7 linked regions of the Homo sapiens genome follow. The protein of the gene in region 5 purifies or fractionates together with the protein of the main gene of each other region. This does not show direct contact. Each region holds a gene or a part of one and is shown on either strand. Other genes may lie near its edges. The genes, in order: GAPVD1, ABCD3, ANKHD1, OXSR1, USP32, HDLBP and EIF2AK2.

Region 1 (3,500 bases), on a different chromosome or scaffold from region 5:
GTAGAAGGCGAGCTTGAAAATCCGGTTCATCACGCTTCGCTCAATGGCCAGCTGTGCATCTTGAAGCTGTTCTTCACTCGCGTTTTGCCATATGACATCCTGGGCCATTGCACCATAAAGAAACTGCAGAAAATCTTCTACCTGAGCAGTTTTATCGTCAGCTGCGGTGAGTTTCTGAAAGTCTCCAAAGCAAAATAATAATTTTTAAATAGTTTAATAAAAACTATCTAAATAATTTTAAAAAGGAAATCATAGAAATAATTTTAATCACTAGCTATGCAGACACCATGATCTTAAAGCCAAAAGTGTTTCAGTGTAGTTTATTTTAGGACAATATGTAGCCATATAATTAAATCAGGAGAAAAAGCAAGAAATATGTGAAAGTTTAAGTGCAAGGAATTTGTTATAAAAATATGTTTCTAGGCCAGGCACAGTGGCTCACGCCTGTAATCCCAGCACTTTGGGAAGCCGAGGTGGGCGGATCACGAGGTCAGGAGATTGAGACCATTCTGGCCAACATGGTGAAACCCCATCTCTACTAAAGATATGAAAATTAGCTGGGCGTGGTGGCACGTGCCTATAATCCCAGCTACTTGGGAGGCTGAGGCAGCTACCAGGGAGACAGAGGTTGCAGTGAGCCGAGATCACGCCACTGTACTCCAGCCTGGCGACAGAGCAAGACTCCGTCTCAAAAGTTTCTAAAAAAAATATGTTTGGCTTTTTAAAAAAAATGAGAAAATTTGTATAGATCCAAAAATTTACCAATGTCCCCAATTTAAAAAGTAAGCTACAGATATTCAATCCAGGAGAAAAATGCAATTTATTGGTTTGACATCAAAGTTTAATTTATTAAGATTCCATAAAATAATTGGGTATTTAAGGCATGCAGATACTTGAACAAACTAGCAAAACAAAACAGTATTTCTAAATCTTCCCAACAGTATTACAGGTGAAGAGATGCTTAAACTAAAGGTATTGAGTTACCTTGAATGAATTCCCTGATCTTCTTTTCTTTGCTCTCAAGCAGTAATCTCACACAGACAGTGGTAAAGTATCGATTGGCCACTTCTTTGTCCCGCAAAACTCTTTGCAATAGCCTTTCCAGGTGAGCCTGTGTGGTCTGTAGTCCTTGTCGACAACGAGTGAGATAAGCAATATATGGGGCTCTTTTTCTAAAAGGAAAAATACTTTGCATGACATCAGATATATTCAGTGCATACTCTCTTTGAAGAATAAGGGTCCTAACTTTTCTTTAGAAAAATTACTGCACAGACTGGTTTTACAAAGTAGCATGTCTGTGCTCTCTTCAGTAGCACATATACAAAGTAGCATGTCAGGCTGCAGACATGGTAGAGACTGATCATGGTGCCAGCTGCAGAACAGACACCCATTTTGCATTTTGTTTGGGAGGATCTATGGGGCTGAAGACTTAGTTACCTAATTCACTAAATGTTACTAAGCCCCTCTGCATACTTGGTGTATTTTATACTGGAGCTATAGGACCTCATACTTAATAGGAAATTGACAGCTACAGATGACCAACAATAACAACAAATACAGGTTATATGTCACTAGGTCACAAACATCCCCCACCAATTACTTGCTTATAGTCTAAATGTCACATTTACTAGAGTGCCCATTCCCTAAGCCTTGAAGCCTCCTCACTACCTAAGCATCTCAGTTACATTTTTCTCCATAATCATGAGCAGGGGACTGGCAGCAGAAAAAGCACAGCAATTCCTAAGGCTACTTACATCTGCTTCTCTGGTCCAGGAAAGTAGGCTTTCCTATCACCACTAAGAAAAGAAATATGATATTCTAGTTGTTCTAGCCTCAAAATATAGGCATACCTCTTTACCTGCTTTTGTGCAAAGCTGAAGTAAATTGCACTCTTCTATTTGGAACTGCTCATTTGTAACTACATTTCCAGAGTAAATATCCAAATATGTTGCTTAGAAATTGATATGATTTGGCTGTATTCCCCACCCACATCTCATCTTGAATTTCCATGTGTTGTGGGAGGGAATTGAATCATGGAGGCATGTCTTTCCTGTGCTGTTCTCGTGATACTAAGTCTCAAGAGATCTGATTGTTTTAAAAAACGGAATTTCCCTGCACAAGCTCTCTTCTCTTGTCTGCTGCCATGTGAAATGTGCCTTTCACTTTCCGCCATAATTTTGAGGCCTCCCCAGCCACATGGAACTGTTAAGTCCAATTAAACCTCTTTCTTTTGTTAAATTGCCCAGTCTCAGGTATGTCTTTATCAGCAGCATAATAACAGACAAATACAGTAAATTGGTACCGAGAGTGGGGTACTGCTAAAAAGACACCCGAAAATGTGAAAGCAGCTTTGGAACTGGGTAACAGGCAGAGGATGGAACAGTTTGGAGGGCTCAGAAGAAGACAGGAAAATGTGGGAAAGTATGGAACTTCCTAGAGATTTGTTGAATGGCTTTGACGAAAATGCTGACAGTGATATGAACGATAAGGTCCAGGCTGAGGTGGAGATGAGGAACTTGTTGGGAACTGGTGCAAAGGTGACTCTTGTTATGTTTTAGCAAAGACACTGGTGGCATTTTGCCCTTGCCCTAGAGATTTGTGGAACTTTGAACTTGAGAAAGATGATTTAGAGTATCTGGCAGAAGAAATTTCTAAGCAGCAAAGCATTCAAGAGGTGACTTGGGTGCTATTAAAGGTATTCATTTTTTTTTTTTTCTTGAGACAGAGTTTCACTCTTGTTGCCCAGCCTGGAGTGCAGTGGCGTGATCTCAGCTCACTGTAACCTCCGCTTCCAGGTTCAAGCGATTCTCCTGTCTCAGCCTCCCAAGTAGCTAGGATTACAGGAACCCACCACCATACCTAGCTAATTTTTTGTATTTTTAGGAGAGACAGAGTTTCACCATGTCAGCCAGGCTGGTCTTGAACTCCTGACCTCGGGTGATCCACCTGCCTTGGCCTCCCAAAGTGCTAGGATTACAGGCATGAGCTACCATGCTGGCCAGCATACAGTTTTATAAGGGAAACAGAGCATAAACGTTCAGAAACTTTGCAGCCTGACAATGCGATAGAAAACAAAATCCCATTTTCTGAGAAGAAATTCACGCTGGCTATAGAAATTTGCATAAGTAATGAGGAGCTGAATATTAATTCCCAAGACAATGGGGAAAATGTCTCCAGGGCATGTCAGAGGTCTCCATGGCAGACCCTCTCATCACAGGCCCAGAGGCCTAGGAGGAAAAATGGTTTCATGGGCCAGGCCCAGGGTCCCCATGCTGTGTGCAGCCTAGGGACTTGGTGCCCTGCCCTCCGGCCGCTCTAGCCATGGCTGAAAGGGGCCAACACAGAGCTCAGGCTGTGGCTTCAGAGAGTGCAAGCCCCAAGCCTCGGCAGATTCCATGAGGTGTTGAGCCTGTGGGTGCACAGAAGTCAAGAATGGGGTTTGGGAACCTCCACCTAGATTTCAAAAGATGTATAGAAACGCCTGGATGCCCAGGCAGAAG
Region 2 (3,500 bases), on a different chromosome or scaffold from region 5:
AAAAAAAAAAAAAAAAATTAGCCAAGCATGGTGGTGTTCATCTGTGGTTCCAACTACTCAGGAGGCTAAGACAGGAGGGCTTGAGCCCAGTAGGTCAAGGCTCAAGGCTGTAGTGAGCTATGATCAGGCCACTGCACTCCAGCCTGGCTGAAACAGCAAGACGCTATCTCAAAAAACAAACATTTTAAATTTAAAACATTTAAAAAATTAAAAATAAAAATTCCTCTTTGAGTTTCTACTTGGGTATCTCACAGGACTCTCAAACGTTAAAAGTCTAAAACTCAAATGTAATTTCTAGATTTTCCCTCTAAAATCCATTCCCTTCCCTAATCTTGAACACTTCAGCAAATGAAACTATCAAACAGTTGCTCCAGCTAGAAAGCCAGGAGTCCTCCCTGGTCTGGTCCTTCCCTTTTCCTCTTCCCTTTCACTCTCCCACAGCTATTTTTAAAATGAACTAAAAAGTCCATTCAAGAAAGAAATGTGAAGTTTCAAGTTCACTCACTTTTCCTCATCTCCACAAACATGCCCTTAGCCCAGAGCACACTCATCTCCTGTCTGGATAGACTACAAGTAGCCTCCTACCACTTCTGCTGCTCCTCTCCAGTCCACTCTCCATGTAACCAGAGAACATCTTTCACAAATGTCAATCAGGGAACTTCACTCTCTGGCTTAAAACCCTTCAACAACTTCCCATTTCACTTAAAACTCAAACTCCTTACCACAGTCTACAAGACCTGCACAATCTTATTTCTACTCACGCTCTAACCCCAACATTCTAGCCAACACCGCCTCCTCTCAACTGCTAGGAACAAGGTGCTTTACACCTTAGAGCCTTAAACACACATCATTCTTTTCTGATGTCTCAAATGCCTTATTCTGTTCCTTAGAGCTTTCAGATTTCTGCTTATAATGTCATCTCAGGCAAACCTACCCTCATCCCTAGCCACAATCCAAGTGGGTCCTTTCTGTAACACCTCTGAAGCACTTCATATATAATCCCAGCACTTTGTGGGGCTGAGGAGGGCAGATCACTTGAGGCTAGGAGTTCGAGACTAGCCTGGCCAACATGGTGAAACCTCGTATCTACTAAAAATACAAAAATTAGCCAGTCATGGTGGTGCATACCTGTAGTCCCAGCTACCTGGGAGGCTGAGGAACAAGAATTGCTTGTACCTGGCCGGGCGCAGCAGCTCACGCCTGTAATCCCAGCACTTTGGGAGGCTGAGGCAGGCAGATCACAAGGTTAGGAGTTCAAGACAAGCCTGGCCAACATAGTGAAACCCTGTCTCTACTAAAAATACAAAAATTAGCTGGGCATGGTGATGCGTGCCTGTAGTCCCAGCTACTCAGGAGGCTGAGGCAGGAGAATCGCTTGAACCCAGGAGGTGGAGGTTATAGTAAGCTGAGATCGTGCCAGTGTACTCCAGCTTCGGCAACAGAGTGAGACTTTGTCTCAAAAAAAAAAAAAAAAAAAAAAAAGAATCACTTGTACCTGAGAGGTGAAGGTTGCAGTGAGCCAAGATTGTGCCACTGCACTCCAGCCTAGGTGAAACAGTGAGACTGCCTCAAAAAAAAAAAAAAAATTCAGAAAAGCAGAGACTGTTTTAATCACTACCATGTACTTGACACTTATATATGGGTAGCATTCAACTATCTAATAAATGAATGACTAAAACAGCTTTCCACCTGTTTGCATGAAGTGAGGAAGGGGAGGCAGCAAGTATAGACTATGAAGAAGTTCAACTGTGCAGAAAATGAAAGGTACAGATCACAGAGAAGCTTTGGCTAAGGCAGAGTTTGCTTTTTAGATCAAAGAGACCTGAAAAATGTCTTTCCACAAGAGAAGGACTAGAAGAGGTTAAATGTAGGTGGGGGCTGCGGGAGGGGATATAACTGAAGGAAAAGGATGTGATAAAGTCAGAAGACAGAGGCTCCATAAACATAGATGGAAGTATTTGCCTTTCTCAAGAAGGATGACATATCCTCCAAGACAGCGGAAGTAGGGAGGTCAGGACAGAGCAGCACACAGTTAATTAAGAGGAATGGTTATCTGAGGGCATTCCACCAATGCCTCTCCTCTCTGCTCCCAAAGGACTCTCTGCGTACATTCATCACCACACTTACTACATGACATGGACATTTTCTCAACATGTGTCTCTCTCGCTCCCACTATGCTGTCAGCTACTTAATGCCACAATACAAGAAAGTTGTAAAGCAGGAGTGTCCAATTTTTTGGTTTCCCTGGGCCACACTGGAAGAATAAGAATTGTCTTGGGCCACACATAAAATACACTACCACTAACGATATCTGATGAGCTTAAAAAAAATTACACACACAAAAAAATCTCATAAGATTTTAAGAAAGTTTATGAATTTGTGTTAGGTTGCATTCAAAGCTGTCCTGGGCTGCATGTGTCCGTGAGCCACAGGTTGGACAAGCTTGTTGTAAAGTGAATAAGCATATGCACACTGCAGCCATACTGCTTGCCTAAGCCTGACAAAGCCCCCACCACCAGCTTTAACATTTACTAGCTGTCTTTGCTTGGCCAGCTACTGAATTGCACAAAAGTTCAATTTCCTCTGTAAAATGGGGCGCGGCGGCTCACGCATGAAATCCCAGCACATTGGGAGGTCGAAGCAGGTGGATCACTTGAGGTCAGGAGCTCGAGACCAGCCTGGCCAACATGGTGAAACCCCATCTCTACAAAAAAAAATACAAAAATTAGCCAGGCGTGGTGGTGCATGCCTGTAATCCCAGCTACTTGGGAGGCTGAGGCAGGAGAATCTCTTGAACCTGGGAGGCAGAGATTACGGTAAGCTGAGATTGTGCCACTGCACTCCGGCCTGGGCGACAGAATGAGACTCTGTCTCAAAAAAAAAAAAAAAAACTAGGGGGGCATTCCCAGTTCTTACCTCACAGGACTGTTGTGAGGATGAAATGAGATCACCTGTGTAAGGTGCCTGACATACTGTCTGTCATCTTTTCAGCACTCAATAAAAATTAGCTGTCATTTAATTGAAATAATAGCCTATCTTTCTTTGAAAAGTAGAAGGCGAGTTATTCTGCCAAGTGCAGTGGGTTAAGTAACGGGGTAGAAAACCCAAAATTGGTAGTTTTAAAATGATTGTCATGAAAAATGAGAGAAGGATAAAAATAAGTAAAATGATTGCTAAGCCATGCTGTGAGCCCATCTGATGTTTTTTAGCTGTGCTCAGAAGAGCGGTTAGAGAAGTGCCAAGGCAAATAACTGGGCTGGGATTTAGGTAATACGATGACACAAAAAGTGGGAAAGGAAGTTAAGGGGAAGGGATGAACTGTTCATTCCTTAAGAAATATATCTTATCTCCTATGGGCCACACCCTGGATTATGAAGTCTGTACTGGACAGGAAAGGAGGCAGAGACAGAAAAGGACTGAACAATTGTAAGGAAAGGGAAGGATTAATATTCTAGAGATCTCAGGGAATTTGAGAAAGGGGGATAGTTGCTAATTTAAGG
Region 3 (3,500 bases), on a different chromosome or scaffold from region 5:
CCCTCCACAAACCCCCGCCAAAAAAAAAGGGCATTTACATTCCCATAAAAGTTAACAGAAGTACCCATTCCTCAGAAAGTATATGGAACATGTTAAAATACGTGCAGGGCCAGGCATGCTGGCCCATAACTATAATCCCTGTACTTTGGGAGGCCGAGGAGAGAGGATTGCTTGAGGCCAGGAGTTTGAAATCGGCCAGGGCAACATTACATGACCCCATCTCTACAAAACAGCCCTAGCTACTTGGGAGGCTGAGGATTGCTTGAGCCCCAGAGTTCAAGGTTATAGCGAGCTGTAATTGCACCACTGTACTCTAGCCTGGGAGACAGAGCAAGACCCTGCCTCAGAAAAACAAACACACAAAATACATGCAAATTTTATTCATGTAGCTAAAATACGAATCATATGCATATTTTAAAATACAAGCAAAATATTTACAAAATGAAAATTAACATTAACACACCTCCTGACGTCCACCAGAACATGCCAATGAAAGCGGAGTATCCTTAGTTCGTTCAGACTGTGCTTCTATATCTCCACCTTTATCCAAAAGGATTTCAACAACTCCAACATGCCCTGCTGTTGCTGCCAGGATTAGTGGTGTGAAACCTAAATCAGAAAATGAAAATCTTAAACAAATTTATGTTTTTTATTTTATTTTAAAGCCACTGTTTACAATTCTCTAGTATTTTAGCAAAATAAATCCTTCAGGGCAGACACTGATAATGAGTTAACATAAAACTGCTCTAAACCCTAATTTGTTAGTGACAAAAAACCCATAAACACCTAATTAAAAAACTAAGTCGGTAAAAATTATTAAAGTTTATACTCATAATGAACTTTGATGCCTCTGTATGAACTACCTTTGGATTAACAAAGGCAACCACAACTTGCTCTATTTCACTAATGATCTACGTCTAATTTTTGAATGTTTTGAGAATTATTTGGCTCCGCAGAATAATGAATCCAGATATTCCTAACTGAAATATACTTATCCATCTTATCACTGAGATAGTCTAGGAACTATTTATCAATAATAAAAAAGTTAATTATTTTCTGATGTAACTACACTTGGATTTTATTTCTGACTGATATTTACCTTTTTTGTCTCTGTGTTCAATTTTGGCATCCCGTGCAATGAGCACAGATACAAGTTCTTCATGACCACCTGCACAAGCTAGTGTTAATGCTGTGTCATGATTGCTCTCAGTCTAGGAGAAGAAAAAAATAAGTTAAAATTTTTTTTAACAGAAGTTATCAATTTAAGAGCAAATAATATTTCTTTTCACAATAAATGCAGAATAATTTTCCTTTCCAAAGAAGATCAGAATGTGCAAAATAAGTTTAAATAAAGCAATCTACTCACATGTGCATCAATGTCAACTGAAGGATACACAGGAGGCATCGATTGGGAAGCCACATTGCTTGTAGTCTGCGAACAGGATTCAGGTGTAAGACACTCTGTGGTCTGAGAAGAACTGTTGGAACCAGTGGGCACTCTGGTACTCACAGCTGAAAAACAATATTCATATTGCTAAATTCCACTTAAAAGAGTAAGGTTATTTGTACATAGAAAAACACAAAAACAGAAATTTCCATAGCAGTAATATGTAGTAATAGTAAAATCACAAGCTTTGGAATCAGACAGACCTACATTTAAATATTAGTTCCAACACTGACTTTCTGATCTTGGGCAAGTAATTTAACTTCTCTGAGCTTCAATTTTCCCTATATGTAGAATGGCGAAAATAATGGTACCTGCCTTGGAAGGTTATTGGAAAGACCACTGAGGCAATGCAGATAAAATACTTAACACAGCACCTGATATTTAGTGCACATACATTAAATAGTAGCTTTTTGCATTGCCAACAGGGAGGAAAAAAAATTTCCAAAAATAAAAGTAAATAAAAGGAATTCTAGATTTTAGTTTGTAAAAAAGTCAATTAGATAAAAATATCCTGTGTACAATTCAAAAAAAGGGGGCTGGGCGCAGTGGCCCACGCCTGTAATCCCAGCACTTTGGGAGGCCGAGGCGGGTGAATCACCTGAGGTCAGGAGTTTGAGACCAGCCTGGCCAACATGGTGAAACCCCATCTCTACTAAAAAAAACAGAAAGTTAGCCAGGTGTGGTGGTACATGCCTGTAATCCCAGCTACTTGGGAGGCTGAGGCAGAAGAATTGCTTGAACCCAGGTGGAGGCTGCAGTGAGCTGAGATCACGCCACTGCCCTCCAGCCTGGGTGACAGAGCTAGACTACATCTAAAAAAAAGGGTGGGGGAGGGGAGGGAGACAAGTTCAAGTATTTCTCACATAAATAGCAGGGAGTATGTGTTTCCTAAATTCAATATTTATTTTGAAACTTTGTTAAAAAATCAGTATCTGAAAGTCCAACTATTTTTAAAATGAACATTGAAGTTCTATTTGAGATCTCAAAATGTGGTTTGAAAACTGAGTTAAGTCCAGGAGCGATGGCTCACGCCTATAATCCTGGCACTTTGGGAGGCTGAGGTGGGCAGATCACCTCAGGTCAGGAGGGTTGGGAGTTCAGGACCAGCCTGGCTACCATGGCAAAACCCCGTCTCTACTAAAAACACAAAGTTAGCTGGGAGTGGTGGAACGCGCCTGTAAGCCCAGCTACTCGGGAGGCTGAGCCAGGAGAATCGCTTTAACCTGGGAGGCGGAGGTTGCAGTGAGCTAGGATCGCACCACTGCACTCCAGCATGGGCAACAGAGTGAGACTCCATCTCAAAAAAAAAAAAAAAAAAAAAAAAAAAAAAAAGAAAGAAAACTGAGTTAAAAGAAATTATGTATTTTATATCTCTGAAAATTTCTTATGTTTCTTAAGAGATGGAGTTTGACCACGGGGGGAAACAGGACCTATCTCAGGGATGTTGTGAGTAGTCTAAGAGATACTGTATATAAAGCATTTAACACAGTGTTTTTAGCAAATGGTGGGTGCTCAATAGATGTAACTATCAGATATTTTATAGGATTGTCAATACTATTATTCATTGTATTGAAAAATAAAAACATTATTCACTCAAGAAAGGAAAAACTCAGAAAAAAACATATAATCAGTAATAATATACAAAAAAATCAACAAAGCATCAGTGATGGCAATAACCTTACATTTGCACCCAGATTAAAAGTCAGTCAAAAACACGTAGGACTTAAAGAAAAATGTAAGCATTTTAAGTGTTGGAAAATATTTTCTCTCTAGAATTTTTGATATGACTAGATCCCATTCAAAGATACTATTCGTAAGTGTGAATGACTCAGTTTAGTAGATTACTAGTTTAAATAAGTGAGCAAAGTTTAAGATGCCCAGATATATTTCTACATGAGCTACCCAGCTCATCCCCACCAACATATATAACCATCTTGGCAATACAAATTTCTCCAGCTTCTGTCATCACATAAATAACATAATTTAACTATTTAGTTACAAATAGGAATAATTATTACATATGTTTGTTTCACCTATAAGAATATGCAAAATG
Region 4 (3,448 bases), on a different chromosome or scaffold from region 5:
GCCACTGCTGTTGGGAAGGGCAGATGATGAGGGAAGATTCCTCCTGCAGTGGGAGGATAACAGGAATACAAAGGAGCCTAGAATCTTACATGTAACTTCACCATTGCAATATCAAAGCCAAGAAGAGATAAGTTCAGCCCTGTTCTGAACTTTCGAAAGAGACTCCCAAGGGCTTGAATCTGGCATCCTTCCTTGCCCAACAGCATAAGCAAAACCAAAGATTTAAAAAAGATCAAAAGATAATAAAAGGAGTTCCATATCCCATCCTATCCAATTCCTTGGGCTGATCTCATCCCTCCCTTTTAGGGTTGCAGTTTCCCCAACTATATAATGGCTTTAATGGTTCTAGATAATTTGTAGATCAACAGACACACTTTACAGTTTATATGTACTTTGGCTTCTATTCGCATGAACAATTAAAGTTGGTGGTGATTCCTTGACCCACAACCCACAGCTCTCCGCCAACGGCCACTAAAATAAAGCGTCCATACACCACTAAGGACAATTTACTCTTTATTGATTAAAAATGAAGAAAACATGCAGTAAAATACAAAGTCCAAAAAAAGGAGGAAAAAGTTGAATATTTTACATCTTCCATAACCTAGCATACATCATAAGGAGGAATCTCCACTTATTGGTACATCATTATTCTCTCCTCCAGATTATTAAATATTATCAGCTGGCTCTAGGATTTGGTTCAAAACTTAAGCAAAAACCCAACAAATCCTTTAGTCGTTTAGAAAGACCAAACATTTCACAAATAGCATTGGCACATATTACTTTGTGCTATAGTTAGTCCCTACTCCAGGGACAAGGGGATCCTGGGACCTAGTCAAAGAGGTGCACTCTGAATCAGCATTCCTAGAAAGGAGTACAGTCACTCACTAGGTTACGTGCTGTTCCACCTGGGCAGTTTCTGTTCATGTATTTTCTCAGTATCACTGCACAAGCCAGCAAAGGGAGTCTACCACACATCATGCAGAAGAAGTAACACTGTCCTGGGACATGGTGTCTGTCTTCTAATTCCTAGCAGGGCAAACAATGAACTGAAAAGAAGGAGAAACCCCAGCCCAATTCTATTTGCCATGACTGCCCCACTGCAGTTCACAGGTAATGATGGGCTAGAGAAAGTGAACAGGGGATGGGCTGCTGCTCACTCCCAGCTAGGCACCAGACCATCTCCACAAAGAATGCTAGAACAGAGTGATGCTGCCACCCCTTGGATTCATAAATAAGTAGATTTTGATGGGTTTGAAAAAAAAAAAACAAAACTCTAAGGTAAGCGGTAAGCCACTAGTCTTGTGCCAAAGAAGATGCTATCTCTTTTCTATACCTCATTCCTACCTCCCCATCCTTGTTCCTCTCCGTCCCCCCTCCACAAAAAAAGAAAAAGAAAAGCTAAGTATTTTTCTAGCAAGCTGGTCAATCTTCTTTTCTCCCTCCTGGCTCAGCAGGCTCCCTCCTTTTACCAAGACTGCTGGGACGTTGAACTCCGGTGTCTGATCATCTCACCTACTCTCCTCCTAACTCCCAACTGAAATCCATCTCCTCTCTTCCTCCCCAACATCCATCTCTTTCCCAACATGCCTTTGCACCTAGAGCAGGTGAAGAAAGCCCATGACTAAAACTAAAGACTCAGAATGAAACAAAAGGTGTGACAAGTTATTTGTGGGGAAGGTTTTCAGATATGTTCCAAGAGAAAATAAGGTAAAACAACCTTGTTCATCAGACCAACAGTGCTGGAAAGGGCTCGAGTGATTCTGTAAAGGGCAACTCTCCCCCTTTCCAGGGACCCACAGCCCATCTTTGTGTATCTTTTTAAGGCCAGATTGAGTATCCCACTCATATATAAAACTCGGTAGGGTTACTAGCAGTTAGACAAAGACTATGAAACGGTAGGAAAAAAGAAAAATCAACCTCACTGATTATTCACATATTGCATTATGAGTGCTCTTTTTTAAACCTAAAGAATAATTTATATTATTTCTGTAGAAAATCAAATGAACACTGTCTACTCATAAAACCTAAAGGTCACGGCACATGTGGTTTCACTTTCCATCTTGAGTTAGCTTCAGCACACAGAGACCCCCTCCAAAGGGTCAGTGCAGGAGAGCAGGCAGAAGGCAGGCCTCTCTGGCCCAGTGTGTGTCTCCTTTATTGCTGTAGAAATCTCAGCCTTGCATACCCATTTCCTCACGACTTGGAGGCCAGGCGAACTGATTTTCATGGGAGGATTGAGTTTTTCTTCAATTTGATATTTGAAAATAAATACTTCTCCAATGATATGAATTATGATTTTCCTGTTCAAAAACCACCTCTGGCAAAATTCACATTTACAAGCCATTACTCGATGTTGTCTGTAAAAACAATCCAAAGTTCCACTTTGAAGGATCTGATGGCTGAAGTTCGGCTACAGTCAGATGTTTTGCACCAGCTGAAGTTAAGGCTAGCAACCCTTTCTGGAGAGAGCAATGAAGAAGGGGGTGCCTGAGAGCAGCTTCAGCAAAACGCTTAGAAACACCATGAACAAAACAAGAACACAGTTTAGGCTGCCTCCATCTGAGGCTGTGCTTTTTCCTAACAAAGGTTGCTAGAATTCACATCAGGTACAAAGAAAAAACATTAAATTAAATTCTCTGGGCTCCAGCTGAACAATCAATTCTACTTCAGTGGTAAAGAGATATCCCAAGATGTCCATATCCTGGCAGGTGTGGGGGAACAGGCAGGATGAGGAAGCCCGATACAGCTGCTACTTTTCCACCTGGGCCATCATTGGAGTAAGGCAAGAATGAGCTGACAGATCTCCCTCCTGGGCCTTGAAGCACATGGGCCACTTCTCAGATGGAGGAAGACAGGGGACATATGAAGTAAGTTTACTAACGGAACTCTGGGGATGCTGGCCACTAGTGATCCAACTTTTCTTTCCCTGTGGGAAAAGGAGGAATGATGGCAGGAAGAACATAAAGACTTCTAAAGCTCCTAGCCGGGAGGTTTGTTGCTGGGTTCTTTGGCAGTAGTGGGTTTAGGCCAATAGAAGCAACAGAGATACGCATGTGTGGAATCTCCTTAGGCCGCCTCTTCCAGGGTTGTGGTTTAGCTGATGCTGAGCTGGGCAAATCCTATCAGTTTACCATCATCAGGAATATCTGAGCCTTCGACACCAGATGCCTAAGAACCAAACAAAATGAGAAACTGTGATTATTTATAAACAAACTTGCAGGTAGCAAATAAAACAGACATGGGATAGTGGGAAGGTAGGCAGTGGGCAACAGGTCCCTAGGATACAAATAGGAGACTGACGAAGGTGTTTATTCCAGAAAAGAGGGGGGCTGGGTAAACAGCTAGAGTCAGACTGGCTAATAGTTTCTCTTATGAATAGCCAAGGGTCTCTGGGGTCAGAGGTTTCCTGGCATGGACAGAGGAAGAGTGGCCACTCAAAGGGAAACAT
Region 5 (3,500 bases):
TATCTTAGTTACGTTGAAAATGGATTGGATTGGATGTAATTAATAAGACTCTGAGGTCCACCTTGCAGTTAGAATACTGCTAATAGTGAAGTATTACCAAAAAAGGTTTACTCTTCATATAAGATGTTTGACAAATTAGTAAAATGAATGACATCCCGAATTTAGAGTGTACCTTTGGTCTTTATCCTACCCACTACATATACAGTAGTAATTTTGCATATATTTAAACAAGCAAAAGAATTTGACCTTTTGTTTATACCAAGTGAAGGATCCAAAAACATTTATTAAGTTAAAAGGCTAAACACAAAAAACAAGCAGAGAAAAATGATTAAACAACTATTAGGAATTAAATACTTTTATATTATTTTAACCTGCTTACCCGAAGCTTTAATGGGGCAACATTCTTCTGAGTTCCACTCCAAAGTTCCTGCACTAAATCACCATAGCATTTAGCCATATGCCCCTTCATACCAATGGGATTTGTCCTAGAAGTTTGAGAGGAAAATTTGTTGCCAAAGATTCTCATAAATCACAATCATGTGGGCGCAAAAATGCCTAGCATCTCACATCAAAATATCTTTTCTTTTTGAAACAAGAGATGTATTCCTTGGCCTATTTCATATTAAATAGGGCAAATAAGATAAAATCTTTCTCCCACAGGGTGAAAAAAGAGGAAATTTAGGTGATATTGGGTTTATATCAAAGTCACAGGTTAAGAGGCCAGTGACTCCAGAAAGATTACCTGTTGAGTTCATAAAGATGTCTCCCTGAGATAAAATACTGTGTCAGTGGCTGTGTGTTACTAACACACTGGATGCTTGAGTTCATGAAGCATGTGTTTCCCAGATTGCTTAGACCTGTGGCTCCCTTTTCTGTGGGAACTGGAACAAACAATATGAGAACCAAAGCTTAGCTGTAGTAATATGCCATGGCACAAACAGTTACTTATATTCAATGAAAAGGTTTTTTATAACTCTCATAATCAGCTAAATGGTGCTAATAATTCTCTAGCAGGTCTCTGAAATGCTAGAGAAGGCTTTTCATGGAGTGTCTGGCAACAGTGATGATCCATGCTCATTTGTAACCCAGAAGCAGCAATTATTCTTTTTAATTGCTATGATTTTTCAAAATAATTCAAACAATTCTTCTTCTAGTATGTCTTTTAAAACATATAAATTATTTAATTGCAGAGTTAGAAAGAAATTTAGAAAATAATTTGATGGTGGGTTTGCCAACATCAAATGCTGCTTCAGGAAAAAAGAAAAAGAAGAAGGCCCTAATTACTTTTGAACTAGAAAACCAAAAGTTGTTAGCACTTTAACAGTTGAGAGAAGAAAAAAAAAGAATACATTTAAAATAATCTCTTTAAAAAATAATACTGGAGACTTACCCTTGTGTCTATCTATTTTACTACTATTTGCTATAAAAGACATCTCCTCAGGCCAACTCATATCTTTGTTGCGAACTGGAAGGACAGATAGGAATGTGTTAATTTCTTATCTATCTAATTTATACCCATTCGATTGCTTTTTTTTTTTAAAGACATCTTATTCCTAAATCAGAAGTTTTAAAATCTAGTTAATTTTAGTACATACATTGCTTAACGACGAGGTTATATTCTGAGAAATGCATCATTAGGTGATTTTGTCTTTGTGTGAACATCACAGAGTGTACCTACACAAACCTAGGCTATGTATGGTATAGGCTGTCGCTCCTTGGCTACAAACCTGTACAGTATGTTACTGCATTGAATACTGTAGGCAAGTGTAACACAATGGTAAGTATTTGTGTATCTAAACATGTTAGAACATAGAAAAGGCACAACTAAAAATACAGTATTATAATCTTATGGGACCACTGCTGTATACAGGTCTTTTGTTGACAAACATCTTTTTGCAGCACATGCCTGTAATTGGCTCTAAAACCATTCCTACTCTTCATATTGAGGACTTTAAAGTCACTTGGTTTGAATAATCTTATCCCTCAATTACCTACTTGAAGTAAAATTATACTCAACCATCTACAGAAGTAATTAAAGTTCAGAAACAATGGAATTTCTTATACTTAAAACATTAGAAATTACAATTCTTTCTTAAATTGTAACAACTGTCAGAGTAATTTATTCCTTTTTTTTTTTTTGAGACAGTCTGGCTTTGTCCCCCCAGGTTGGAGTGCAGTGATGTGATCTTGAGTCACTGCAACCTCCGCCTCCTGGGCTTGACTGATTCTCGTGCCTCAGCTTCCTGAGTAGCTGGGACTACAGGCACGTGCCACCACACCCAGCTAATTTTTGTATTTTTAGCAGAGACAGATTTCACCATGTTGTCCAGGCTGGTCTGGAACTCCTGACCTCAAGTGATCCACCCATCTCAGCCTCCCAAAGTGCTGGGATTACAGGCGTGAGCCACTGCGCCCGGCCTATTCATTTTAATACAAAGGCAGCTAACAATGTTGCCACAAAACTTGATGGGAAAAGATACACTTAAAAAGTTTTTAATGGCATGTGCATGCCAGTGTGTAAATCTATGAATATACAAATAGCTCTGTCAGTGAGTAGCCAATGTTGGTGACTAATGAAAGCCTGTGCTACTAACTATGCAAGAAAGTTGTTCTTTTTACTCAAACTCAAAGCAGCAACTTGAAAATTTTAAGGAACTATAAATGTGTAAACTGAATTCACTTGTTTTTTATCTACCATTCCCATTCTTTGTCAGTCAATGACTAAAAACAGAATATTTTCCCTTTAAAGCAATCTAAATTGTATGGTAGGATTACATAAGAGTTCAAAGGGTTTTCTTTTTCTTTTTTTTCCAAAGGGTTTCTTTATCATAAAAACATAATAATCAAATAATAGTTGTTTTGGAGAAAATTATAAAATGGGTTATTAGTAACTCTTTAAATTCTTCCCCTTGAAAATTTAATATAGATGCATGCTTCCATCTTGTACCTTCAATTACCAGGTGTTGTTCATCCTGGATTTTCAAATATTCCAATTTATGATCCTCATCATCCAGAAGAGTAAGGTAGTTCTGTGTAAGGAGGAGGAAATGTTTTTGTTATTTGGTTAGTAAACTTGAAACAAATACAGAGATAAAAATGAGTAACAATTAAAAAAACAACTTCTTTGTAGTTATATAACATATCACAAATATCTGGCCTACTATAGTTGTTCATAAATATTTATAACTTAGGTGGCAGTATGACAGAAAGACAATGTGTACTTCATAAGCGTTATCTTTCTCTTTTTTAAAATTTCAATAGGTTTTTGGGGAACAGGTGGTGTTTGGTTACATGAATACGTTTTGTTTTTTGTTTTTTTTTTTTTTAAAGATGGAGTCTGGCTCTGTTGCCCAGGCTGGAGTATAGTGGCACTATCTTGGCTCACTGCAACCTCTGCCTCTGGGTTCAAGCAATTCTCCTGCCTCAGCCTTCTGAGTAGCTGGGACTACAGGCTCCCACCGCCATGCCCAGCTAATTTTTGTATTTTTAGTAGAGACAGG
Region 6 (3,500 bases), on a different chromosome or scaffold from region 5:
CACTCCACGCCGGCTGAGGTAGAAAGAAGGCAACTGAACACACAGCAGCTAGGGCAGGGGCAGGGAGGGGCTGCAGGTGGTGTGAAGAAGAGCCCAGCTGTCATCTAAGGCAAACTGCCCCCACTGAGGACAAGCGTAAGGCCCTACCTCCCCCAACCTGTGCGCATCTCAATCACAGCAGACACTGTGACGGCCACAGGGGACCCAGATGGTGCCTACCACCTTGCCTCCAGGCTCCACTCACCAGACCTCAGGCTGAGGGTCTGGCAGTGGAGGTAGGGGCAGGGACCCTTGGTGCTTTCAGACCCCACGGCAGGTAAAATCAGGACTGCCTGAGAACCCGTCACCCTCTGCCTCTCAGGTCACCCCCCAGCTCCAGGAACCTGCCTCCTGCTGTCCATTGCCAGGTCTTCCTTGCACCCTGACACCTGTGCTGAGGCGCTCTGGCAGCTGGAGGAGGCTGATTGCACTCCACAAACAGGACTGTCTGGACCAAGGGAAACTGGCAGGAGGGAGGTGGGAAAGGAAGAGGGCAAACGTTTGGCTTTTATAAAGTCAAGGACGTTTATTTCCTGAGGTCATGACACAGGAAGTGGAATCCTAGCCACGGCTGCGGAGCTCTCGTGATGAAGGCCAGAGTGCTGACTGACATGCCGGGTGGACCAGGAGCTGGAGTCTGTTATCTTAGCACGAATGCTCATGACCTTGGTTTAGTGTTAAACAGTGGAGCAGGTCCTGAGCGGGCACGGCCAGGCCTGGAGGAGCGGCCGCACACACAGCCAGGCGCTAGGCTCCCTGCGGGACCTCGGGAAGGGGGAAGAGCGTCAACAATTTACGGAGGGTCCAGCCGCTGGGTCAGATTGAGACAAACCATTGTGTGGTTGGGTTTGGGTCAGCAGGCTGGAGAGGGTTCTGTTCTTTTTGATCATTATCGTTTGGGGCCCCAAGGGAGGGTCTTGGGAGCCACCTGAGCCCCAAAGCTGGGAAATTCCTCAGAGCTGCTCATGTCAGGAGCCTGTGCAGAGAGAGGACACGGCTTCAGGAGGGGATGCTCCCCAACTCGCAAGCAGCTTCCGACGCAGTTGCCACCCTCAGGACACCAAGCCCGCCTGCCCGCCCACCCTCCCTGGGACCCAGGAGGGCAGAAGCCCGCATCTGACCTTCTCACTGCTGCTGGCGGTCCAGGGTGCGTCCCGCACCACAAAGCCTCTGGAAGGTGCCTTGGCCTCTTCGTGTGCTGGGGGTTTCATGTATACCTGCAGCGCCTCACTGTCCACCACGTCAGCTAGCTGCAGGCAGAAGACAGGAAGACAGGGTCAGTCTGCCCAGCACCCCCAGCATCCCGCCCGCCTGCTCACCCCTGCACCTCGCCTGCCTCTGGAAACACAAGTGCCACCTTGTCCCCTGAAGCTCCTGGCTGGGCCTCAGGCCGGTGGACGTGCCAGGGCGCCTCAGGGCTCCAAGGCCCACAGAGACTCACGTATTCCTCCTCCAGATTGAGGATGTGGTCGATGGCTTCCTCCACATTCTCTGGGAGCCCCGTCACAGTGACGCAGTTGGGGTCTGGGGCTCCGCTCTGTGGGAAGCGAATGTCCACCTGGAAGGGGTGTACAACGTCAGATGAGGGGACTCCAAGCGAGGAAAAGGGTTAAAATTATGTGTCAATTTCTAGTGAAGCATTTTCTGAGTTAGCAAACGTTTTAAAATCTGGTTTCAGAGTTGTTCTGAAGTCAGTCAGCCTCATCACCACACCAAGTTAGGTGTATCTCAGGAGCACCTTGTTCCCAGCAGACAGAGGGCCGCAGCACGTACTGTGCGCTCTTGCATGAAATTCCCACCCACAGAGGACGAGCTCGCCAGGCAGCTGTCAAGGAGATGCCCTCCTAATGGCCACCGTGGCAGTGCAGCCTCACACAGGCCGTCGCCTGCACTGACCCGTGGTGTCCATGAGGACAGTTCCACTGCCAGCCCTGGGGTTGTGGCCTCATCATCTTGAGGGGAAGGCCATGCCCTGCTCTTTCTTCTGGCCAGCCAGGTGCCCCCGGTGAGAGAGGATTCTCACCCACTGTGCTTCCAGCCGGCTCACCTTGAATTCGTCCATGATTTTGCGAATGGCTTTGCCGCGGGCACCAATGATGCGGGCGTGAACGCGGTGGTCCAGCGGGACGTCCTCAGAAACCATCTGCTCAAGTTCACCCACAATTCTCAGTATAGCATCCCTGGCAGCTTCTGTGTTCTTTTCGTACCCTGTGATGGTAATTTGGTCCTGGGGCTAAAAAAGGAGAATGTAGTCAGAAAAGGGGATGCCTTACTGGGATTCCCGTCAGGGGCAAGAGCCGGCCCCCACTGCTGAGGAAAACAGCTCAGGAGAGAAGATGGAAAGCAACGTCACGGCTGATTTAAAACAAGAGGTTAACAATGTCCACTCAGGGCCGGGCACGGTGGCTCACGCCTGTAATCCCAGCACTTTGGGAGGCCGAGGCAGGCGGATCACCTGAGGTCCGGAATTCGTGACCAGCCTGACCAACATGGAGAAACCCCGCCTCTACTAAAAATACAATATTAGCCGGGCGTGGTGGTGCACGCCTGTAATCCCAGCTACTCCCGGGGCTGAGGCACGAGAATTGCTTGAACCCGGGAGGCGGAGGTTGCTGTGAGCCGAGATTGCGCCACTGCACTCCAGCCTGGGCAACAGAGCAAAACTCCATCTCAAAAAAAAAAAAACAAAAAAAAAACACCCCACAAAAAACCTATGTCCACTCAGCTTCCATCTCTTCCCAAACTCTACCCAAAAGACAGTGAATTACAGAACGAAAAAGGACATTTGTCCTCAAAGACAAAGGAGAGACACTAACAGGCAAGAATTCTGGACTCAAGGACAGCGGGGCAAAGACAAAGCCCCAAGCCCCTCAGCTTCCTGCTTCTTTGCCCACGTGGGCCACAGTCTGGAGGCATCTTTGTGCTGGAGGCTGGAGGCTGGCTGGCATTCCTCAGCGAGCCCCTCCCTCACTCAGAGATCCCACCTGCTCAGGCCTTCCTTGGGCCACACAAATGGACAGGAGACACCATACCAGACTTGGGATAGCAGACAAGCAGACCAAGCAGACAGTTCAGGGCATAGAGAAGGAAACGTGGTAACAAAACACCTGTAGCCCACAATCGGCGAAAACAACATGTCCACAACACAAAAACCACCATGCAACAGGACTAGAGGACGGGGACAAATCACAACCATCACGCAACAGGACTAGAGGACAGGGACAAATCACAACACGGAACCATCATCACGCAACAGGACTAGAGGACAGGGACAAATGCCTGGAAAGGAAATGAGCAGAAAGACCTAACCTAGAGACAACAGAGCAGCAGCCCAAGAAGCTTCTGTCCAGATTGAAGCAAAATGCCAGAGTGGGAGGCAGCAGCCCCACCCACCGTGGCCCAGCAGAGCTGACAGCCTCAGGCACCACCCGCGTGCTGCCAGGTACAGAACCTCAAGATCG
Region 7 (3,500 bases), on a different chromosome or scaffold from region 5:
AAAATATTAAAACTCTTAAGGTCAGTTATAAATGTAGAAAAAAATGCAAAAAAAATTTAAAAATATTTAGTACACTGTAATTTAAAACATTAAAAATAGAATTAAAGTGTTTTATTTCATTGTGAAAACTAAGTAGTTTGAATAGGGATTGCCTTTTTTTTCTGCCAAGTGACTTATGATACTGAGTAAGCATCTTTTCTATTCATGGCAAACTGTCATACTCCTTTTAAGTTTGGGTGAGCTTCCAGCCTTTTATTGCTTGTGCTTTCAATGTTGTGAAGTATTTCTGTATTCACATTAAATGCTCTTTAGTGTGAAGTTTGTTTTTTTTTTTTTTTTACCGTCACTTCCTCTGGGACATATTTATCTTTATTGCAATCACTTTTCTTATTTGTGTTGATAAGTTTGCCTTCACTAAGCTCCTATGAATGCACAGCAGGAAGAACATTCCCATGATCAGTGACTTCTTCTACAAATCCATTTATGTTTGATTCAAATTTCACTTCCAGTGTTATCATTTTTCGTTGCTTTGTTGGACTTTCATCTTTGTTGGCCAGTTCTTTCGATTGTTCACTTCTATAAAATGTCAGGTGGAGGACAAAGAGACAGTGTAACTACGTGCTCTGCTGTGAGTGAACTGATTAACAGATGCACAGGGACCAACCACTGGAAGAATTTGAAACAAGTAACACGACTGGTCACTGATCATGAAGCATATCTGTTATTTACATCGTGATTTGTAGACTGAAGAACTAGCAGAGAAGTTTGTACTTCCTGTAATTACTCAGAGTTATACTGTGCTACCTAAAATTTTAACCTAGGTTTAAACAACACCAGTTTCCTTACCAGTTTCCTTTCCTTCCTGGTAAGGAAACTGGTATTTAAACTAAATCTAGGTCACTGAAATTTGTGCCATGGGAACCGTGCACATTGAGGACCTGCCTACACCCTACATGTTTATATTGGTCCAGGCAGGCTTAATGCTGACTACTGAGAAATAGGCTATCTGAATTTATATCAAATAGTGAATCTTAAAGCACCCAAGATGAAAAATTCGTGCACATTGAGGTGCTTTTAAAATCTTTGTCATTTGACAATCAAGCTTAAAATGTATCTTAGAGTAACCGAATTTTAGAAATAAAGACCTTTAAAGGCCCCATAGTTTGATACCACAGATTATCCAGCATGTTTATAATGAATTATTTCTCCTCCTTCAATTTCAGTTTGCTCATACTTTGTGACTTGCGGTCACAGTGGCATTCAGCTCCACACTTGGTAGAACCACAGGCACGACAAGCATAGAAACATCCTAAACAATCTTCATCGAGGCATCGAGGTCCATCCCAATAAAAATCAGGAGACCCTGGCTATCATAGACCTTAGTCTTCGCTGGTATCACTCGTCTGTCTGAACCAGCGGTTGCATTTTTTTAAGCCTTCTTTTTTCTCTTTTACCAGTTTCTGGAGCAAATTCAGTTTGCCTTCCTGGATTTGTAAATTGTAATGACCTCAAAACTTTAGCAGTTCTTCCATCTGACTCAGGTTTGCTTCTCTGGCGGTCTTCAGAATCAACATCCACACTTCCGTGATTATCTGCGTGCATTTTGGACAAAGCTTCCAACCAGGTACAAGCGGTCTTCCGAATTTTGCACTCAGAAAAGTGGCATCATCTAAGTCAATTACATGCAAATTCTGGGGGGCTAGTTTTTTGTGTATGTTAAATGGGTCACAACACGACTTCTGTAAATCCTCAAATCTGTCAATATAAATTTTTATGTGATGAAAGCAAATTGTATTGTTCCTAGAAAGTGTCCTTCCAGTTCTAAGTTGAAGTAAAAGCATGTCATTTGATGACAATTCTTGCAACATCTTAAAACCTGTGTGACAAGTATAGTAGGTTTTATGGCACTCATTTGTAGTACGAAGCTGGACTGCAACTATCGATCCATCATTGTTGATTCTAGCATATTTTCCTTGTTTTATTTTGTCTAGAGATCTAGGTCACGGGCTGATCACCCTTAGCTTGAGCTCTCCTCCGCCTGGCTTCCGGCAGGATCCACGTCCACACAGGCACACTTGCCTGCCCGTTCATTTCCCAGCCTGTCCCCATGCTACCACTCCACTTCACTTATTATATATACTCTAAATCTTTTTCTTCTCAACATAAAACATTCTACAATCCTGCAGCCTTTTTACTTTTTTAAGCAGGTAGGCAAACATGTAGTTGATACTCAGTGGAAGCACAGAGCAGAGTTAAAGAGAAGGACCCCCTTTCACTGACCAGTTGAGTTTTTTTTCTTTCCTTTATTTTTTAAAACAATTTCAAAATTGAGATGGGGTTTCGCCATGTTGCCCAGGCTGGTCTCGAACTCCTGAGCTCAGGTGATCCGCCCACCTTGGCTGGGATTATAGGCGTGAGCCACCACACCTGGCCAAGTTGAGTTTTTAAAGTAGAAAATTTTGGAGAAATTAACTTTATTGTGCAGTGAATGAGAAAGAAAGAACGGTTTTGAAAGAAAGTCTCTGCATTTATGTGAGACTGAGATGAGTCCTATAAAGGGGAGTCTCCCCAACCCCTCTGTCTCCTAAACTGCATTGGGAAACTCAGATTAAATATGTTCTGTGAGCATCACTCATTCAAATGTCTCTTCCATTGTAGGATACGGGAAGAAGAAATGGCTGGTGATCTTTCAGCAGGTTTCTTCATGGAGGAACTTAATACATACCGTCAGAAGCAGGGAGTAGTACTTAAATATCAAGAACTGCCTAATTCAGGACCTCCACATGATAGGAGGTAGGTTGCTATAAAAAATGATATGGCAGCCATAAAAAATGATGAGTTCATGTCCTTTGTAGGGACATGGATGAAGCTGGAAACCATTATTCTCAGCAAACTATCGCAAGGACAAAAAAACCAAACACCGCATGTTCTCACTCATAGGTGAGAACTGAGCAATGAGAACACATGGACACAGGAAGGGGAACATCACACACCAGGGACTGTTGTGGGGTGGGGGGAGGGGGGAGGGATAGCATTAGGAGATATACCTAATGCTAAATGACGAGTTAATGGGTGCAGCACACCAACATGGCACATGTATACATATGTAACCTGCACGTTGTGCACATGTACCCTAAAACTTAAAGTATAATAATAATAAAATTAAAAAAAAAAGAAAAAAGATATGACCTTATAAATGTAAGCTGGGGGAATGGCAACTCTGGCACAACTTTGAGGTCAACACTTTAGTTTTGTGAGAGTGCTCTTGGCATAAAGTGGGAACCATGGTGGAGCCACAGTTGACTCCAGAGAGAAAAGAGGGTAGAAACCTTTCCATGCTTCAACAAGACATGCTGCTTTACTGTTTGAGGTGACTGCTTAAATGCTATATTGAATGTAGGTTCAAACCCTCAAAGGTAGTCATAGGAGGTAGTGATGACTAGAGTACTTGTTTTTAGATAGTGCATGAGTTGTATAATATTTTATGAATATTCTCTTTG

Evidence for each region.
Region 1: the proteins of USP32 (region 5) and GAPVD1 purify together in Homo sapiens (affinity purification with mass spectrometry; one large-scale study listed by BioGRID and IntAct). This does not show direct contact.
Region 2: the proteins of USP32 (region 5) and ABCD3 purify together in Homo sapiens (affinity purification with mass spectrometry; one large-scale study listed by BioGRID and IntAct). This does not show direct contact.
Region 3: the proteins of USP32 (region 5) and ANKHD1 purify together in Homo sapiens (affinity purification with mass spectrometry, with the first as the bait; one large-scale study listed by BioGRID). This does not show direct contact.
Region 4: the proteins of USP32 (region 5) and OXSR1 purify together in Homo sapiens (affinity purification with mass spectrometry; one large-scale study listed by BioGRID and IntAct). This does not show direct contact.
Region 6: the proteins of USP32 (region 5) and HDLBP purify together in Homo sapiens (affinity purification with mass spectrometry; one large-scale study listed by BioGRID and IntAct). This does not show direct contact.
Region 7: the proteins of USP32 (region 5) and EIF2AK2 purify together in Homo sapiens (affinity purification with mass spectrometry; one large-scale study listed by BioGRID and IntAct). This does not show direct contact.

Annotation. Positions count from the first base shown.
Region 1 is NC_000009.12:125,352,326-125,355,825, reverse strand, and holds part of GAPVD1 (GTPase-activating protein and VPS9 domain-containing protein 1), read right to left. Parts: intron 1,173-3,500; coding exon 985-1,172; intron 183-984; coding exon 1-182. UniProt on the Homo sapiens protein: Acts both as a GTPase-activating protein (GAP) and a guanine nucleotide exchange factor (GEF), and participates in various processes such as endocytosis, insulin receptor internalization or LC2A4/GLUT4 trafficking.
Region 2 is NC_000001.11:94,501,889-94,505,388, reverse strand, and holds part of ABCD3 (ATP-binding cassette sub-family D member 3), read right to left. Parts: intron 1-3,500. UniProt on the Homo sapiens protein: Broad substrate specificity ATP-dependent transporter of the ATP-binding cassette (ABC) family that catalyzes the transport of long-chain fatty acids (LCFA)-CoA, dicarboxylic acids-CoA, long-branched-chain fatty acids-CoA and bile acids from the cytosol to the peroxisome lumen for beta-oxydation.
Region 3 is NC_000005.10:140,502,833-140,506,332, reverse strand, and holds part of ANKHD1 (ankyrin repeat and KH domain-containing protein 1), read right to left. Parts: intron 1,513-3,500; coding exon 1,367-1,512; intron 1,212-1,366; coding exon 1,100-1,211; intron 610-1,099; coding exon 464-609; intron 1-463. Other genes in the region: ANKHD1-EIF4EBP3 protein, read right to left, coding at 464-609, 1,100-1,211, 1,367-1,512. UniProt on the Homo sapiens protein: May play a role as a scaffolding protein that may be associated with the abnormal phenotype of leukemia cells. Isoform 2 may possess an antiapoptotic effect and protect cells during normal cell survival through its regulation of caspases.
Region 4 is NC_000003.12:38,252,537-38,255,984, reverse strand, and holds the end of OXSR1 (serine/threonine-protein kinase OSR1), read right to left. Parts: intron 3,169-3,448; coding exon 3,094-3,168; 3' UTR 501-3,093; downstream 1-500. UniProt on the Homo sapiens protein: Effector serine/threonine-protein kinase component of the WNK-SPAK/OSR1 kinase cascade, which is involved in various processes, such as ion transport, response to hypertonic stress and blood pressure.
Region 5 is NC_000017.11:60,210,634-60,214,133, forward strand, and holds part of USP32 (ubiquitin carboxyl-terminal hydrolase 32), read right to left. Parts: intron 3,030-3,500; coding exon 2,948-3,029; intron 1,466-2,947; coding exon 1,391-1,465; intron 882-1,390; coding exon 743-881; intron 486-742; coding exon 380-485; intron 1-379. UniProt on the Homo sapiens protein: Deubiquitinase that can remove conjugated ubiquitin from target proteins, such as RAB7A and LAMTOR1.
Region 6 is NC_000002.12:241,228,673-241,232,172, forward strand, and holds part of HDLBP (vigilin), read right to left. Parts: intron 2,273-3,500; coding exon 2,087-2,272; intron 1,598-2,086; coding exon 1,481-1,597; intron 1,290-1,480; coding exon 1,161-1,289; intron 1,016-1,160; coding exon 929-1,015; 3' UTR 1-928. UniProt on the Homo sapiens protein: Appears to play a role in cell sterol metabolism. It may function to protect cells from over-accumulation of cholesterol.
Region 7 is NC_000002.12:37,146,981-37,150,480, reverse strand, and holds part of EIF2AK2 (interferon-induced, double-stranded RNA-activated protein kinase), read left to right. Parts: intron 1-1,176; exon of another isoform or gene 1,177-1,457; 5' UTR 1,458-1,624; exon of another isoform or gene 1,625-1,987; intron 1,988-2,075; exon of another isoform or gene 2,076-2,109; intron 2,110-2,658; 5' UTR 2,659-2,674; coding exon 2,675-2,793; intron 2,794-3,500.